Linked DNA regions of Homo sapiens: all the other regions are linked to region 3. The links come from fine-mapping of genetic effects on gene expression. A gene starts in region 3. Each other region holds a variant in brackets. All regions are shown on one strand. Distances are from middle to middle. Region 1 overlaps GSG1L (GSG1 like). Region 2 overlaps GSG1L (GSG1 like). Region 3 holds the start of GSG1L (GSG1 like).

What was found. PIP is the estimated chance that this variant, and not a neighbour inherited with it, causes the effect.
Region 1: its variant is the best candidate, but not a certain one, in a credible set for the expression of GSG1L in aorta (GTEx, PIP 0.55).
Region 2: its variant is the best candidate, but not a certain one, in a credible set for the expression of GSG1L in tibial artery (GTEx, PIP 0.57).

The regions. Positions count from the first base shown.
Region 1 is chr16:27,800,149-27,804,352 of GRCh38, reverse strand. The region is part of intron 6 of GSG1L (GSG1 like); the gene reads left to right. Among named protein-coding and RNA genes, the nearest start is that of KATNIP, 250 kb to the right of the region's middle. The variant T/G (reference allele first, on the strand shown) is at 1,949.
Region 2 is chr16:27,793,179-27,797,382 of GRCh38, reverse strand. All of the region lies in intron 6 of GSG1L (GSG1 like), which reads left to right. Among named protein-coding and RNA genes, the nearest start is that of KATNIP, 250 kb to the right of the region's middle. RefSeq lists a silencer at 1,088-1,288. The variant T/C (reference allele first, on the strand shown) is at 1,856.
Region 3 is chr16:28,061,433-28,065,636 of GRCh38, reverse strand. GSG1L (GSG1 like) reads left to right here and starts at 1,923. Exons shown (of 7, transcript NM_001109763.2): 1 at 1,923-2,561. The coding sequence starts at 2,213.

The DNA of each region.
Region 1 (4,204 bases), 260 kb after region 3:
CAGGCAGAGGGACCTGTGTGTCCGACAGCTGGAAGGAGCCAGACAGTGCTTGTGGAATAGCCAGGAGACCAGGGTGGCTGAGGCAGGGAGGGCAATGGGAGGGCAGGAGAGCTGGAGGGGCCGACGGTGGCAGGAGGCAGGACAGGGACGGAGTTCGCTATGCAGTGGAGGGGAAGTTGATTCTGCAGCAGGGAGCCCGGGGCATTTTAAGCAGGGAGAAGACATGTCCACATTATTTCTCTCTCTCTCTCTCTGTCCCTCCCTATTTCTTTATCTATCTATCTATCTATCTATCTATCTATCTATCTATCTATCCATCTAATCTATCTATTCATCCATCATCCATCTATTATTCATCTGTCAATCATCTATCCATCAATCATCTATCATCTATAAATCTTACCATCTATCTAATCTATCCATCCATCATCTATCAATCGTGTCATCTATCTACCTATTTATCTATCATCTATCTACAGATCCTATCTATCCTATCTACCATCTATCTATCTATATATCTATATCTATATCTATATCTATATCTATATCTATCTATCTATATATATATATATATATATATATATATGTCTGCACTGTGGGAAAAGGATCAGAGAAGAGCCAAACTCGAGACCAGGAGACCATCTTGTAATCTACAATATGCACAAAATGTTTTGCTGTTGCAGTCGTTCTTGGGAGACATGATGGTGGCGGCCTGAACTGTGGGGTTGGAGATAAAAGTGGGTAGCTCAAGGACCCTCTGCTGGTAGAATTCCTAGAGTGTCTTGGTTTGTGTTTCCCTGGAAGTCCCTTGAGATGAGGATATAACAGCAAGTGCTTTATTTTGATGATTGAACACCCAACTAGGAGTGAGGAAGAGAGACTAAGAAGGGAGACAAAGGCGACCAGTCAAAGGCACAGCGTCGAGCCTGCTGGGGGCTGGGGGCACCAGTGCAGAGCATATGTATCTGAGCCATCCCCCCAGATAGGAAGGCAACTCTCCTGGGCCATTGTTCAAGGGCTGCCGCAGAGAGGGTCGGGTGCATGAGTTCTCTGGAGGTAATGGCTCGGGGCATGGACAGAGGGGCTTGGGGCGCGATGGAGAAAGCCCCCTTGCACAGTTGGGGGTTAGCAGTGTGCACCACCGTGGAGCTGGGGGGACAGCATCAGATAAGTGACTGATTTGAGTGAGGACCGGGGGAGAGGAGGGACCTAGGATATGCACAGAATTTTTGCCCAAGCAGTCAGGGGCATGGGGTCCCTGACTGATGGAAGGATATGGGGAGGGGTCAGTTTGTGAAGGGCAATGTTGCTTTGTCTGTGTGGAGTTTGAGGGGCTCGTGAGGGCCTCCAGGAGGCAGCCAGATCAACGGAGGGGAGCTTAAAAGGGTGGCAGAGAGACAGGCAGGTGCAGTGGTGCATGCCTTAATCCCAGCTCTTTGAAAGGCCAAGGCAGGAGGATCATTTGATGCCAGGAGTTCGAGACCAGCCTGGGCAACATAGCAAGACCCCATCTTGAAAAAAAAAGTTAAAATTAGCTGGGCATGGTGGTGCAAGCCTGTATTCTCAGCTACTCTGGAGGCTGAAGTGGGAGGGGAGGATTGATTGAGCCCAGGAGTTTGAGGCTGCAGTACAGTATGGGATGGTTGAAGCCCAGAGACTGCAAAGATCATCTGAGGAGAATGTGTAGGGTAGGGAGACACAGTGACACAAAAGGGGCCTAACCTCCTGGGGGTTCAGGGGAGCCAGAGGCCGGTGGGGAAAGAGCTGTGGAAAACTGTCAGTCGCCCCCAGAGACTTTCCAAATCCTGGCTTCTCAGGGAAGAAAAGAGCCTGAGACCCCACAACCCCTGCGCCAGGTGTACCTTTTATCAGGTAGCTGAGCATTAGCAGGGATGGCCGTCATTCCCTGGGGATAGCGGAGTTGCTGGGAACTCCCACGTCAAACAGC[T/G]AATAAGGAAGAGACCCCCTCTGTGGTCAGAGCTGAGGGAGGGGTCAGGGGAATGTGGGCTGGATGCTGGCATGCGTGAGAGATCCCGTGACTTCAGGGATCCTGAAGCAGGCTGCTTTATTTATTCCACAAATCATTACTAAGGAGACCTCTCTGGCTCCTGGGAGCATGGAGACGAATAAGGCACGTTGCTGGACCCTGTTGACTTCCAAGTCTTGTTGGGGAGACAGACCCAAGCCATTCGTGCACTGTGTGGCCAGAGCTTGAAAGGGGTCAATGCAGGGTGCGGGATAGCAGGGCATGGTGCCTCATCCCACTCAGGATGACATGGGGTGCAGGAAAGGGAAAGCAGGAAGGGGGGACTTAGCCAGGGTGATACCCCTTGGCAGGACCTCCAGGGCTATCATGATGATACCTGCATTTGATTACGGAAACAGCCAGCAAGAAGAACTCAGTCCCCTAGATCTAATCACAGTATCTCACCTTTGTGCATGTTCTCAGGACTTTGCACTTATTCACTCATTTAACCCTAAATACGGACCCATTTTACAGACGAGGAAACGGAGGCCCAGGAGGTTAAGACCATGGCTTACTCAATACACAGCTAGAAAGTAGCAAAGCTGGGATTTGAACCCGGCCGGTCTGACCTCATCACCCACACCCTGGACCGCTAGGTGATGTCAGTCAGCAGCTCCATTGGTTGGGCAGGGTACTGAGGATGTGGGGTGCCTCCAGACATGGCCTCGGTCCTCTTGGAGCTCATGGTCTAGAGAAGCAGCCGATCAAATGAGTATGGAAATGATGCCGTCTCAGAATTCGGCCTCTTAGCTGCTAGTGGGTTTTCAGCCAAGAAAATATTTTGGAAATGCCTGGACGAGTTTTGCAATATTTCTGCGGGGAGCAGCTGCTCAGATCCTGCGATGGGCTGACTTGCCGGCAGGAGGAACGGGGGAGGCGGGATGTCAGGGAGCCGGCATTATTAAACACTTACTGTGTGCAGGTCTGTGCTAAGCACTTCTCTGCCATCTCATTTGATGGCTGATCCAGCCCTGAGAAGCGGGGATTCTTCTTCTAGAAATACAGTGCTGTAAGGCAAATCAGCTTTGCTGGGATCTCTGGTTCACTCGGCAATAAAACTCAGCTTGGCAATTAGATCTTGCTCCTTACCCTGGGAGAGAGGCCACTCCTTCTCAGGCTCCCAACCCCGTAGGCCTCTTCCCCATCTCCCATGCTGCCCCAGCCAACCTGACCTTCCTCTTTCTTGAACACGCAAAACTCATTCCCTTGGTAGGACCCTTGCACTTGCTGTTCTCTCTGCCTGGATGCTCTCCCTCTAAATCATGGTGTGGCTGACTTCGTCTCATCTTTAAGTCAGCTGAAAGGCCGCTTCCTCCGAGAAGCCTTCCCTGATCTGCACCAGCTTCCCCAGTCATCCCCATATCACCGGGTTCTCTTTTCTTCCTAGCATTTGTCCCTCTCCGAAATGATCTTTTATGTTCACATGCTTGGTTTTCGTTTTGCTGCCTCTCTCCACCAAGTGCCATGAGAACAGGCGCCTTGAGTGTTTTGTTCCTGTGTATATCCCAAGAGTCTAAACTAGTGTGTGGCACATAATAGGTGCTTAATTGTTGGCTGTCAACCTCCACGTTTCTCCCACCACCTCCCATCTGAGAAGCCACTTTTATATTAGCAATTACATAAACTTCTGGTTATCCTAACTGTCCCCAAAGATGTTATTCTGGGGGGCTACTGTGATATGGATTTGGCTATAATTTTTTTTTTCCTGAGGAAGTTGCTTTTGAAACCTGCCTTTGGGGCTTTGTGGCGCCACCAGCCAGCTCAGGAGCACATCAGACGTGACATTTGATGGAGGCGATGTTGCCATATGGCCCAGGTGTCTGCATCTTCCTTTCAGGGGCGACTGAGGTTTGCAGTTGATTGCAGCTGTCAAGTTCAATGCCTGAGACAAGGTTTTGATTTTGCCAGGTGTATCTGTAAGGCTGGGCTCCACGAGAGGCTGTCGCATGCTGGGCGCGGAGGTGGCTTCTGGGAGCTCCATCTAGATGGGTCTCTGCCACTGCTGCTGCCCTCAAAATAGCAGAGGGAATTTCAAGAAAGAATTTTTCTGGACCCAGAGCAACTTGGCATTTTTATTAGATCAAAATCAAATCCAATAGAGTCCTGCTCGAGTTGCTTCCTTTATTAAAATGGAAACAGACAGTATTTCTAAAATAAATATCAATGCCAATTTGCTGG
Region 2 (4,204 bases), 270 kb after region 3:
CCAAGATAATTTATGTATTTTTAGTAGAGACAGGTTTTCACCATGTTGGCCAGACTGGTCTTGAACTCCTGACCTCAAGTAATCCACCTGCCTCAGCCTCCCAAAGTGCTGAGATCACAGGCACTGCCACTGCACCCAGCAGATTTCATTGTTTTTTAATGGCTGCATAGTTTTAAATCTAAGTATCTGTTGATGAGAGCCCAACCTTTGGAGTGAAGCTGGCTAGATTCAAGTCTCAGCAGTGAGGCCTTGAAACAATGACTTAATTTATCTGGACCTCGGTTTCCTCACCTGTAAAATGGGGATAATAATGGCACCTAACTCGTATTTTTGAGGATTAAATGAGTCCATGGACAGGAAGCACATTGAATGGTTCCTGGCACACAGCAGGAGTGGGAGGCATGTCTGGTCTTGTCATCTCTTCATATGTGTGCCTGTGAGCACCCGGGGGGAGGGCCGCATCTCACTCACGTCTGTAAACCCAGCAGCCAGTGTGGAGGCTGACACACAATACATGCCCAACACATGTCTAAATAAAGGACTGAGGAATCAGGGGCCCTGGGGAGAGGTGGCAGGTGCAGTGGACTTTGTCTCATCCCAAGGGCAAGAAAGAGACAAAGAGAATGTTATGGCTCAGAAACGTGGAATCCCTGAGGATGACCCCAGTGGAGAGATAGATGGCCCCCATTCAATCTCCTAAAACAGCCCGCCTGAGGTAGACCAGAAGACACAAACTTCCCTCCATACGGGTCCGTCCCACTCAAGCCTGCCCTTCCTCCTGAGCCCTCCACCGTTCACTCATTCTGCAGACACGTGCTTTCAACGCTGTGCCTGGGACCATGCTGATGCAGGGATGCAACTGTGAGGGAAAGCAGAGCTGGCCTTTGTCCTCCTGTGACACATGCCTCAAAGGCAAGATGAGGAGAAAACCAGTAAACAGATATTCCCATATGTGATGACACCTCTGAAGCCCTCTCATGGTAGAGATTTGTGGACCTAGAAGAGCGATGAGAGTGTCACTAGCTGACAGGTTTCCAAAGCCCGATTTCTTAGCGCCATCCCTGATTCATTTTCCACCACTCTTCAAGCTTCCTTTCTTTCTGGAGGGCAGAGGTCAAGGTTGGGCAGACAGACAGTTGGCTTTGGGCGGACCTGTGAGTCCTATAGAGAGAGGCTTTCAGCACCTCGGACAGCGGCTGGGTGATTGGCCGGAAGGAACTTCCCTGTAAAGGGATCCAGCTGATCTGTGCCAAGCTGGGCTACTGTAGGGTCAGGAGCATCAATACCTGCCACCTGTTACCCTCACTCTGCCAGCTGCAGAGAGACCTTGAGCAAGTCAGTTTCCCTCTAAGTGCCTCAGTTTCCCGATCTGTACATTTGTGGTGGCATTGACGTTCCTGGTCTTGAAGGGCCCTCCCAACCCAATGAATCCATTTTGGAACAGTAGATGTGATTTAATTCAATTCAGCAATTATGTCTGATTCCCGGATCTTGGTGGCTTAGAGAGGGTTCAAGACAGTGATTCTTCACTGAGGGAGGCGGGAGATGGGGCTGGAGGAGATCTGATGTTAAATATGTTCATGTTTTGATATCTGGATTTAAAAGGGAAGAGAAATCACACCTTTGGGGAACCTCCTGTGGTCAAATACTCTGCTAACCTTGGGAGGTTCCCAGAAAATGGAAACCACAGTACCTGCTACCACGCTCTGAGTGGGGCCTTGACAAATCTTTTCCCACCCATGGGCCTTGGTTTCCCCATTTGTGAAGAGAGGCTTTCAAACCCAACCTGCTTCTAGTGCTTCCAGAACTGTGTTCTTTCCACTTCTGTCTGTGTCTGAGATTGGACAGTGAAGGG[T/C]TTCTCTGCAGGGTGCCTGCTGGGCCTGCCAACTCCTTTGTAGCTTTCATCCATTTGCAGGCTCAGAGAGGTGAAGTTGCTTGTCAGAAGCCACACGGCTTAAAAAAAATTCACACAATTTGCAAGCAGTGGAGGCTGGGTTTGAACCTTTGGCTGTTAGACCGAAGTACGGTCTCCCCAGCCCCCTGCCATCACCTGAGCCTTCACCCAAAAGAGGAGAGTTTGAGCAAAAACCCTTTTCATACTGTACAGAAGCTCAGAGCAGGTAGAGCAGGTGCATCCCAAGCGCAGGAATCACTCTCTCCCCTTCCTCCATGGTTTCTTCATTTGTTTAAAAAGAAAAAAAAAAGAGTCAGTTTGGGACTTGCTCTGTGCTGGGCCAGGGGCTGGGGAATCAGGGCTCCAAGATGAAGCAGACCCTGGCCCTGCTCATAAAGCTGTCTCCCATCCCCAGTTTCATTGGGGAGACCCATGCTGACCTGGCTATTACAACACAAAGTGATGAGTTCGGGGAGAGAGTTATGCAGGCTGCTGAAGGGCACAGGGAAAGGAGCAAAGCCTCCATTTTCCAAATGCTGCCAGCTCTAGGAAGCATTCTACAGGGCTATGGAATGCTTCCCAGAGCAGGCAGCATTTGAAAAAATCAGGGAGTCAACAGCTGGAGAAGAGCAGGGAAGGGCGCTCCCACCTAGGGGATCAGCCTATGCAAAGCCATGGAACAGAATCATGGAACGAAGACACAGGCTGGGATCTGCCTCTCGTGGGCTGAGTGCAGCCTGAGAAATGCTCTTTGGCCCACAGATTGTTGAAAATACATTTGAAACCTTAATTGTCATCATTTAAAAGCCAGGAGGTTTTGTTTCGAGATCCAGATTTTCAGTTTCTTTGAAAGTTTTGGGCCGGGCGCGGTGGCTCAAGCCTGTAATCCCAGCACTTTGGGAGGCCGAGGCGGGTGGATCACGAGGTCAGGAGATTGAGACCATCCTGGCTAACACGGTGAAACCCTGTCTCTACTAAAAGTACAAAAAAATTAGCTGGGCGTGGTAGCAGGTGCCTGTAGTCCTAGCTACTTAGGAGGCTGAGGCAGGAGAATGGCGTGAACCCGGGAAGCGGAGCTGGCAGTGAGCCGAGATCGCGCCACTGCACTCCAGCCTGGGCAACAGAGCGAGACTCCGTTTCAAAAAAAAAAAAAAGAAAGTTTTGAAGATCCAGCTGGGCATGGTGACTCACACCTGTAATTCCAGGGCTTTGGGAGGCTGAGGCGGGAAGATAACCTGAGGTCAGGAGTTCAAGACCAGGCTGTGGAACAGAGCGAGACCCCATCTCTACAAAAAATAAATAAATAATTAGCCAGGGATGGTGATGTGCACCTGCAGTCACAGCTACTCAGAAGACTGAGGCAAGAGGATTGTTTAAACCTAGGAGCTCGAGGCTGCAGTGAGCCATGATGGCGCCACTGCGCTCCATCTTGGGTGACAGAGTGAGACCCCATCTCAAACAAACAAACAAACAAACAAAAAAACAGTTTAGGAAGATCTGAGCCCACATTCTCCTTGGTAACAATTGGCACTGTCTCTGACTCACCTCATCCATTTACATTGCCTGCTTGGGCCCACAAGACATTTTGAGTTGAGATTCCCAATCTACAGCACAAGGCCTGGGAGAGAAGAGAAGTGGGTGGGGGTCCCTGGTGGGCTGCTGGAGTGTTCTCCTCTGTATACACACACCTTAAATGGCTCTGAGCCCCAAGTGCCTCCTGGGTAGCCAGAGAAAGGGAGGAGGGCCCCAGTCCTCAGCATCTTGCCCTCTGCATCCAGGGGACAGACAGCCTGATTTTAACTCAGGGAAGGACAGGGATTGTGGCCTTTCCTTTTCCTTAAAAAATACACTATCACTTTCTTTCTGTTCTGATGATCTCTCCATGGCTCTGCTTTTCAGCCACTGTACAAGCAGCTAAAATTATGCCTAAATGCTTATTTAGAAAAACAATCATACCTTTCCATGCACCAAATATTTGCTTCTAGATTAAAAAAACAAAACAAAACCCAAACACCTCTATCTTGGCAGCCAACACTTCCAAAGTATGCAATGGTTTCCATGACTGAGGCCAAAACAAATGTGTTTTTCTGAAGCCAAATGATTCCAAAATGTTTGCAAAATGTTTCCCACCCCTTAATAAATATAGTAAAACTTGCAAAACACTAACATTAAGGAATATTAAAAGCAGAAAGAAAAAAGTGAAAGCCAAAAATATTACCCCCCACCCCAGCTATGGACACAACCATCTTCCTCTTTGACTCTTGTCTTGCAGCCTTGTTATTAGAAAGACTCTCCTGATAATGAGAGCTG
Region 3 (4,204 bases):
GGGAGGCCGAGGCGGGCAGATCACTTGAGGTCAGGAGTTCGAGACAAGCCTGACCAACACGGTGAAACCCCGTCTCTGCTAAAAATATGAAAAATAGCCAGGCGTGGTGGCAAGCGCCTGTAATACCAGCTACTCGGGAGGCTGAAGTATGAGAATCGCTTGAACCCAGAAGGCGGAGGTTGCAGTGAGCTGAGATTGCACCACTGCACTCCAGCCTGGGCGACAGAGTGAGACTCCATCTCAAAAAAAAAAAAAAAAAAAAGATGCTACTGGATTCTTTACAGCTGTTTGGCGATGATGTATTTTCTCTGTCAACCAATACTCTCAATGCCACCATTATCACATGGAGGTCCTCTCTTTCAAAATAGTTGAGAATCTCTTGCACAGTGCCAGAAAAGGGCTCTAAAAGCAAGTTTGGAGACCCTTGGCCATCCTTCGTGCCTGCTCTTACCAGGGACGTTGCCCACAACGTTTTCCTCTCACCTACCCCCCGGCAGATTAGCAGCAGCTGACAGTGGGTGCCGGCTCACCCACAGGAGTAAGGCAATTCATAATCGGTTAACCTTGAATTCTGCAAGGCCTGCCACTCGGCAAGCCGGGGGTTGTCGGAGCAGTTCTCAGCTTGGGCAGAATTCAAATGAGCTCTTATAATCAACATGCAATTAATTGTTGCACGCCCTGAGCATCTGGGCAGTAAGTGCTGTGCAGCGCGAAGGGAGTTCAGGGAGCGTGGTCATCTTAGAGCAGAGGTGGGGACGGGGTTGCACACAGTTTCCACGTTGCACAGGAGAGCCTGAAGAGGTTTGTCTGAGTTTGGTCAACTGATCTTGGTTCAGATGTCAGTAACAGTGAATTATTAATTGAGTCTACTGTGTGCCAAATGCTTTTTGCAGCCATGATCTCATTACAGCAGCCCACTGTGATATACCTTGAAGGGGGGGGGGTCCTCCCTTTTTTATAGTTATGGAAATTGAGGCTCAGAGAGGGTAAGTGACCTGTTCAAAGCCACACAGCTGGTCAAGCCCTAGATATGCTTGATCCCAAAGTCAGTATGTTTGGCCACCCTGCCCCCACCCGAATCTTGAAGATTCTACCCACATTCACATGGTGTGCATGTGAGCAGGGTTGGCAGCCCCTGTAGGGCACCACTGCCTGGTAGCTGCAATAACTTTGTGGCCGGCATGGGCCCTCCTAGGGTTCTGCTGTTTGGGATCTCAGGTGGGTGCAGTGGGCTGTCTGGGGTACCCTGTTGCCACTCTTCCTGCAGTTGCATGCCATGGTTGGGAGCCCAGATGACAGTTTCATCCTTGGAGGGGAGCTCTTCCCAGATGCTGGAGGTGACACCCAGGAGACAGAAAAACGTTTCAAACCCTATAACCCAATACTCCAGGAGGGGCGCCTCCTGACAGATTCTGCCACTCCAAGTCCAGCATGGGTTGTCTTATCCAGGGGGTCTTGCAGCTCCCTGGCTGTGGGAAGCCCTGCAGGCTCTGCTGTTTAGAACCTTTGGAAAAACTCCTTTCTCAGGGTCTGGTGCGGGGGTCCTTTTGGGGATCCCCTTCTGGGACAGGGTCCTGCTGGTCCGTGTCCCTCTTGGGGAGCCCCAGCAGGCTCTGCCCTTGTCTCCTGGGGCAGGGCCTCTCTGGGTCTCATGAGATGCCCGCTCCCGGCGGGTTTTGTTGCCCCACGTCCGCCGTGGGGATCTTTTCTCAGGAGCGCCTTGCCTGGGATTCTCCTTGCGTCTCAGACCCTCACCCTGGCTCGGATTTCTTTCGGGGGCGTCCCTCCACTCCCAGGCCCCCGCCCGCGCCCGGCGTGGCGGCCCCCTCTCCCCGTGCGGGCGGGCTCCGGAACAGTGTCGCCGGCCGCCTGCAGGTGTCTCCCCACGGAGGGGCGCGCGTCCCTGCGCCGTGGCCGCTGCCAGGCGCCAGCGGCTCCTAGCCGAGGTGCACTCGCGCTCCGGGCTCCGGGCGCGCCGTAGCCGCTCCTCCACCGCCGCCCGCCCCGCCAGCCCGCCCCGCACGCCCCCCGCGCCGCGCCCCCACCCCGGGGTTGGGGGGGGCATGGGCCCGCGCCGCGTCCGCCGCCGCCGATCTCAGGCACCCGAGCCCCGGGGCGCGGCGGGCAGCGGCCGCTGACGCGGGGCGCCAGCTGCCAACTTCGCGCGCGGAGCTCCCCGGCGGTGCAGTCCCGTCCCGGCGGCGCGGGCGGCATGAAGACTAGCCGCCGCGGCCGAGCGCTCCTGGCCGTGGCCCTGAACCTGCTGGCGCTGCTGTTCGCCACCACCGCTTTCCTCACCACGCACTGGTGCCAGGGCACGCAGCGGGTCCCCAAGCCGGGCTGCGGCCAGGGCGGGCGCGCCAACTGCCCCAACTCGGGCGCCAACGCCACGGCCAACGGCACCGCCGCCCCCGCCGCCGCCGCCGCCGCCGCCACCGCCTCGGGGAACGGCCCCCCTGGCGGCGCGCTCTACAGCTGGGAGACCGGCGACGACCGCTTCCTCTTCAGGAATTTCCACACCGGCATCTGGTACTCGTGCGAGGAGGAGCTCAGCGGGCTTGGTGAGTGCGCGCGGGCGGCGGCCAGCTCGGCTCCGGCTCCCCCGGGGCGGCGCGGCCATCGAGGCCCGAGCCCCGGACCCGTTCGCCCTCCTCCCGCCGCCTGGGCCCAGCTCCCAGCGCTCCGCCTGGCTAGGGGCGACGTTCCGGGGCAGGGGGCGCGCGCCGTTCCGGGGCCGGGGACCAGCATGGGGGGACGTGCGGGACGCCCCGCCGTGGAGAGGTGCAAGGCAGAGCTCCTACCCGCTGCGGACGCCCCGCGGCTTTGGGGACGCTCCCGCGCCCCGGGAAGGCGCCCACCCCCGCTGCCGGTCGGAGGGGCGCGCGCTGCTTTCCGCTCCTGAACTCATCTCCACGCTCGCCCCCTCCTCCTCTTCCTTTCGCGGGGCACTAGATGCCCCCACCCACCCCGGAACGCCCCTGGGGGTGGGGGTGATGCAGGGACTCCTGCTACCAGCCGCCCCTCCTGCCGCAGATCCACAGACCCGGGAGCCTTCCACCCCCATCGCCAACCCACGCCGAACCTCCCAGACGGGAGTGGGGAGTGGGGGAGTCCCGCGGGCTCCCGGAAAGCCGCACCCGCCCAGAGGCACCCCTATTGCCAGACGCCAGGGAGCCCTCTGTATCCTGGCCCCCTCCTGGGAGAGGCAGGCTAGGGAACTGGGGACAGCTGGGCAAACTCCGGGTCGAGGAGTCCAGGAGGGCTTAGCTTAGCACAAGGCTCCTATTAGGTTCGGTGGGGGACTGACTTTTCAGAAGGCAGATCAGACTGTCCCCTTTGCCTGGACCCCCTCCTCTACCCTCCAGAGGCAGCCTGGGCTGGAGTGCGTGTTTTGGAGGCAGACAGCCGGGCTGTGGCAGGGCCCAGGGGACAGCTGCCGGACAGCTGGTTGTGCCACACAGCAGGTAGAGCTGGCCCGAAAGACGTGGTATCTCTGAGCGGGTGTCCAGGCATGGACACCCTCCTGAGTGAATTGACCTCTTTCTCCAAGGTTAAAACTCCTCCCTGCATGCCTAGCTCCTCAGTGTGGACACCACACATATGTGTGTGCTCAAGGGTGGGTTACAGCAGACCTCCACCCTTAGTTTGCCCTAAATAAGCCAGTGGCCTAAGTGGTTTAGAGGGCAGAGGGAGGAAGCTGTGAAGCGAACCCAGTGAAAAGCTCCAGGCCTCTGCACAGGCTGCATCCTCTGTCTGGAATGCCCTTCCCCGCCCCACCTCCTTCTTCAGGGGCTCCTTTCACTGGGACTCTCCCACCTGCCTTCCATGTCAGGATACTGAGGAGGGACAACCTTGTGAGCTCCCCGTTGGAGGGAGGGTCTCCATCTTTGGATCTCACCACTGCGTTTATCTCCCTGCCACACTTGGCACTCCCTGACATTTTCTGGGGCCTGTTTTTGGTCACTAGCTTATAGTCCCCACTCCCCATAGGATGTCACTCTGTGAGGGCCAGCCCGGTTGGTCTTGTTCACTGCTGCCTCCCAGTAATGTCTAGCGCATAGTAGGTCTTCAATAAACATTTGCCGGGTGCATACTGGATGGGGTTGGGATGATGAACCGGAGGCTTCCTGCGGTGCTGCCTCCTCTGTCTCTCTTCTGGGGGTGGCTGACCAAACTTTTCTGTGACTTGAGCCAGGCTGGCCGT